Regions from separate parts of the Homo sapiens genome. Here region 2 is linked to region 1. A link means that fine-mapping ties the variant in region 1 to the expression of a gene that starts in the linked region. Tissue or cell type: whole blood. Region 1 holds a variant in brackets; the other region holds the start of a gene. All regions are shown on one strand. Distances are between the middles of the regions.

What was found. PIP is the estimated chance that this variant, and not a neighbour inherited with it, causes the effect.
Region 2: it holds the start of FAAP20, and the variant in region 1 is fine-mapped to the expression of FAAP20 in whole blood (TOPMed, PIP above 0.99).

The regions. Positions count from the first base shown.
Region 1 is chr1:2,143,615-2,146,287 of GRCh38, forward strand. It overlaps PRKCZ (protein kinase C zeta), which reads left to right. Exons shown (of 18, transcript NM_002744.6): 6 at 596-727; 7 at 2,413-2,494. Among named protein-coding and RNA genes, the nearest start is that of PRKCZ-AS1, 39 kb to the right of the region's middle. The variant C/T (reference allele first, on the strand shown) is at 1,133.
Region 2 is chr1:2,193,577-2,196,249 of GRCh38, forward strand. FAAP20 (FA core complex associated protein 20) reads right to left here and starts at 1,196. Exons shown (of 4, transcript NM_182533.4): 1 at 1,112-1,196; 2 at 422-557; 3 at 63-334. The coding sequence starts at 1,173. RefSeq lists silencers at 951-1,040, 1,051-1,530 and an enhancer at 2,164-2,673.

The DNA.
Region 1 (2,673 bases):
ATTACCATCATTTTGGAATTGTTCAGAACCATGAAGAATAAAGAAGGATCATTTAAAATCTTGAAAAATACTGAACAAAGAATACTAAGATAATTGCAGGCTGCCATGTAGCAGTTCAAGATGTTCATGAGTCCGAGTTCCCCTTCTCTGAGGCTGTCAGGAGGAGGTTCTGTTTGAATGAAGGTCAGGCAGGGGGTACCCCCACACACTCTGCTTAGCCCTAGACGGGACCCCAGGCTGCTCTACGCAGAGCGCAGCAGGAGCTGCAGCCCCCCAGCCCCTGCAAGCCACGGGGCCTTGCCTGAAGCAGCACCTCGTCACCCCTGCCCGATGGCACCTCCCCTGTGTCCCCTCATGCAGAGCAGGGTTCCAGGCCTCTCCTTGGGGCCACTGGTTCCCCCAACCTTGGGATAGACCCAAGAGGAGGCTCTCAAGCTTGGGCAAGCCTGGCGCCCGGAAGGGACAAGGTGCCGGGGCCACCTGTTGCCCGGCTCAGTGTCCTCTTTTGAGAAGGTATAGGTGTGGAAGGCCCTGCCTGTCCTCTCCGCTGGCCCCTCAGTGTGGCCTGGGCCTGACGCTCTGTTCCCACCTGCAGAGAGCGTACTGCGGTCAGTGCAGCGAGAGGATATGGGGCCTCGCGAGGCAAGGCTACAGGTGCATCAACTGCAAACTGCTGGTCCATAAGCGCTGCCACGGCCTCGTCCCGCTGACCTGCAGGAAGCATATGGTGAGTGGCAGGGCTGGGGAGGCCCGGGGGGCACGGGCGGGGTCGGGGCGTGGCAGCCAGCCCATTGTCCAAGCAGACCTTGGTGACCCTGGGTTCTTCAAGAGGGGCCGTGGTGCCGTCCTAGCTCTGGGCTGCAGCGTGAGACTCAGGCGGCAGTCTTGGATAGGACCCATCTTCCTGAGCCCCCACAAGCCCCCGGCACACTCTGCTCATTGGGGCATGAGGCTCAGGCAGCAGGCTCAGGTAGGACGTGGTACGCTCTGCTCAGTGGGTCGGAGGTAAGGTTCATTCATACCCCAGTCTTGAACCAGCTCTTAAGGACTGTGGAGGTGAAAGCCAGGTCTGACCTAGTAGCATTGGGCACGCTGAGGCTCCGAACATCTGGAGCCTCTCCCTGGCATCCCC[C/T]CTGGGAAGCCATGCCCAGCCTGTGATGAGGGCGGCACCTTCCCTCCGCCATCCCCGAGTGCTTGGACTTGAAGCATCCAGGCCTTTGGGGGCCTTATTGACTTTTGCTTATTGAAGGCTGCCTCTGGCATTTCCGTGTGGCCCCCTGCATCCCACTGAACCACGGGGGTGAGGCCTGGACTGAACATTCAACTCCCTGGGCCCTGCTGCAGCGTGCAGTGGGTGTGTCTGGGGAGGGTGGCTTGTCTGCATCTTGCTGTGGCATGGGAGGAAAGGCGCCTGTGGCAGTGACGTGCCCTCTCCTCTGTTACGGGATAAAGACAGAGTCTGGATCAGGGTGTCACCCCAGGATCACCAGCCACAGGGATGGGGGACCACGCAGGCTGGTGCATGCGTTGGCACAGTCCTTCCAGAGGTCCTTCAGCTGCATCTGCCAAAAAGCCTGTAATGCCCTTTGACCTCATAGGTCCACTTTAGCGTAAGCAAATGAGACCGGCCCCAGAAATGTGGTCAGCTAGAGGCGGAGGGAGGCCAGAGCCTGCCACCCAGCTGACCACCAGTACTGGTGGCTCCATTATGACATATCTGCAGGCGGAACCCAGAGGCCCTTAGAATGGCCCCCTGATGCTTGGTTACTGACAGGATGCAGCTTTGGGACAGGGGAGATGACCAAGCATTGTGCAAAATATCCCGTTGTATAAAGCACTTGGTGGAAAGGTCATGGCCTGCAGTACCGAGTGGCCACCTCCGTCTGCAGAATCATAGGTAATGTTTATGTTCTTTATCTAATTCAGTAAAATAGCATAACAATTAGATTTTTATATACTATATTACAGTATACCCATTGTAATGTGTAAATATGTAAATCATAAATAGTCTTGAAGTGGCCAGGTGCAGAGGCTCACACCTGTAATCCCAACACTTTGGGAGGCCAAGGTGGGAAGATCACTTGAGGCCAGGAGTTCAAGACCAGCCTGAGCAATATGGTGAGACCCCATCTCTACAAAAAAAATACAAAAATTAGCCAGGCATGGTGGTGCGCACCTGTAGTGCCCGCTGCTCTGGAAGCTGAGGCGGGAGGATTGCTCGAGCTCAGGAGGTTGAAGCTGCAGTGAGCCGTGATCGCGCCACTGCTCTCCAGCCTGGATGATGACAGACTGTGACCCTGTCTGTAAAAAAAAGTTCTTAATTTTAAAAAGTCACAAAGTGTTTACAGAAGCTACATTGTAACACCTGCTCTAGCACTTGGTCATGCTGCCATCTCTGTGTCTCTCCGGCAGGATTCTGTCATGCCTTCCCAAGAGCCTCCAGTAGACGACAAGAACGAGGACGCCGACCTTCCTTCCGAGGAGACAGATGGAAGTAGGCGCTGCTTTCTTCCGGCCGGGTAGAGCCTGGGCATCACCTCACCCTGCTCACCTCTGCCTTCTAGCCACGAGTCCTTTCTCAGTCCCATCTGCTCTGCAGGGGTCATTGTCTTCAAGCCTGGCCACCCTTCCCTGGGGCTGGGGATGAGGCTCTCCAGGGCCTCCTCTCAATCC
Region 2 (2,673 bases), 50 kb after region 1:
AACGGCTGTGGTTTCCAAACACGGATGGATAACCGGGCCGGGCGCAGGGGTGGCCTACTCACCTGGGGGCGAACTCCTTCTGGCACATGGGGCAGCTGCGCAGGGCCGCGGCACCCTCCACAGACGGCTGCTGCTCCACCCTGGGGGCCCTGCAGGGATCAGGTGCCGGGCGCTGGGGCAGGGACCTGGCGGGGGATTCCAGGTGCCCTCCTGCCCCGTGAAGCAGCCGGTAGGAACGGCCCGGGCCCCACAGGTCCGGCGGAAAGGGTGTCCAGGAAAAGGTCTTGGGTCCGACAGTGAAGACTTCAGTGGGCTCCGGGCCGCACCTGGGCTCCTGCAACACAGAGTTGTTGGGCCTTGCCCAGCGATGGCTCCCGCCCTGGAAACCCCTTCATCGCTAAGATGGGCCCAGTGGGCACACCTGTCCTGGGAAGGCGGGCAGTGAAGGCACCTCGTGATCCAGGATCAGCTCCGGGCTCACCGTGCGCAGTAGCTCGGCCCAGAGCCGCTCCCGCTCATCACCCCCCAGGAGAAACCAGGGGCGGCCGCCAGAAGGCCTGGGGCAGACAGAGAGGGCAGACAGGGGGTACTCAGTAGCGGAAACGCTATGGTGGGGAGACCCGGGAGGGCCTGGGGCAGAGAGAGCGGGGAGATGGGGGGTACTAGAGGGAAATTCGATGGTGCGGGAGGTGGCCGGCAGGGTTGGGGGAAGGGCTGCTGGGGCAGACAGTGCGGAGATGAGGGGTACTGGGGGTGGGGGAGCGGGGTGGGTGGGTGGAAATATGGGGTCCTCAGCGGGATGAGGCGATGGTTGGGGAGATTGCGGAGGGCCTGGGGAAGGTAGAGGGTTAGATGGGGGGTGCTCAGGGGAGACGCGATGATGGGAGAGGCGCGGGAGGGCCTGGGGCGGCGCGGGGGAAGCTCGGCGTGGGGTGGGGGCTCAAGGCGGGCGCTGAATGGCGGCGCGGGGTGGGGCGACGGGCGTGGGGGCCGGGCCCGGGGGCAGGGAGCCCTCCCCAGGGGGAGAATAGAGCGGGAGGCCCGCGGGGGCGCCGGGAAGCACGTGGGAGCGGGAAAACCGGCCGCGCCCCCGCCCGGCTCCCGGCCTCACCCGCCCGCCGGGCGCGGCCTCCGGCGGCTCAACCCCAGCCGCGGCCTCCGCGCCGCCTCCATCCAAGCCCGCGCCGGGCGGAAGTGAGCGCAAGCCCCGCCCCCGCCCCTCCAGGCCCCGCCCCCGCCCCGGCCCCGCCTCCAGACCTCTGCAGCGAGGCCGCCCCCCTCCGAGACAGTCGGAACCCCAGGGGCCCTGATCCCAGCCTGTAGGGAAACTGAGGCCAGGGTTCCTTCGTCCTGCACCGCACAGGGGGGCCTGGCGTGAGGGTGGGGGGCCCAGGTGGGGGAGCCCCGCCCGTGTCCCCTTTCCCGTCCGGGCAGCCCCCGGGCCGGAGCCCCCTCCGTTACCCCGATGGCTGCCCGGCCCGCCCCGGCACTGCCTCCTCCCGGCTGCACCCAACAGCTCCCGCCCCCGTTTCCGGCTCTGCGGAGCCGCCTCTCCTCCCAGGACCATTCCAGGAGTAAATAAAGCTTGAAATCCGCCGTCGCCACCACCGTTTCTTTACAAAAGGCGGGGAACTCAAGCTCCTTAACCAAGAAACCAGAGGCGAAGTGACAAAGTCCAGGTGGCTCACTTGGGCCTCAGGGGCCTGGGCCAGGGCCCTGGGGGCAGCTGAGGGGCTTTCCTGCCTGGACCCCGGGCTCTGCGACCTCAAAGTCGGCCACGTGGTGGCAGCAGCCGCCCAGGCACCCTGGTGCCACACTTGGCTGTGCCCAGTGCCCCATGGGCCCAGGCCACTTGCCTCTCCCTTGGCCCTGCTGGGCCCTGGAGTGGCTGCCACCCTCACGGAAGGAGTGGGGTCTACAGAGATCAGGGTCAGGGGCCCTCGCCAGACGCCACTCAGGGCTCTGGGACTCCTTGGCAGTTTCTGCCCTGCCCAGCCCCAGCAGCTTTGGGGCTATGCTGGGCACCCCTCCTGCAGGGCTCCCTGGCTGTTCCTACCCCTCACCTGGCCCCTCCCAGCCCCCAGTCGTCTGTGCCCTCCCTCCAGAACTCAGCTGTGGAGCCCGGCCCTGAACCCAGGCCACCCGAGTGGCCCACCGTCCTTCAAGGGGCCCCAGCCTGGAGGCCATAGGTTGGTGTTCAGGGAAAGGGTCAGCAGCAGGGCCTGGACTGGGAGGTCCCCCTCTCCCTGCATGAGTGGTTTTCTTCCGCACACCTTCCTGCTCTAGATGCTGGAGGCCCCCAGCAGAACAAGATGGAGGCACCAACCCCCAGGCCCTTCGACTTGAGTGAGCAGATGGAGATGCAGCGCTGAGTGCTGCCCGGGCAGGGGGAGGGGGCCTGGGGGAGCTGCTGCAGGCCGTGTGGTCTCAGGGGGCCCTGTGGGAGGTAGCCTGTGGCTGGGCCTGCTCTCAGGCGAGAGAAGCCCAGCCGTGGGGTCTCTGCAGCCCCACGTCCACCACATGGCAGGTGCCAGCTGACCAAGCGCTCTCAGACAGCCAGTGTCCAGGGCTCCCCGACAGTCCTGGCTGCCCTGGCTTCAGCTCCGAGCTTCTGGGTCTTTCCTGGAAATGTCACCATGGTCTGCAGGAGGGCCTTGGGTACTTCCAGGAAGA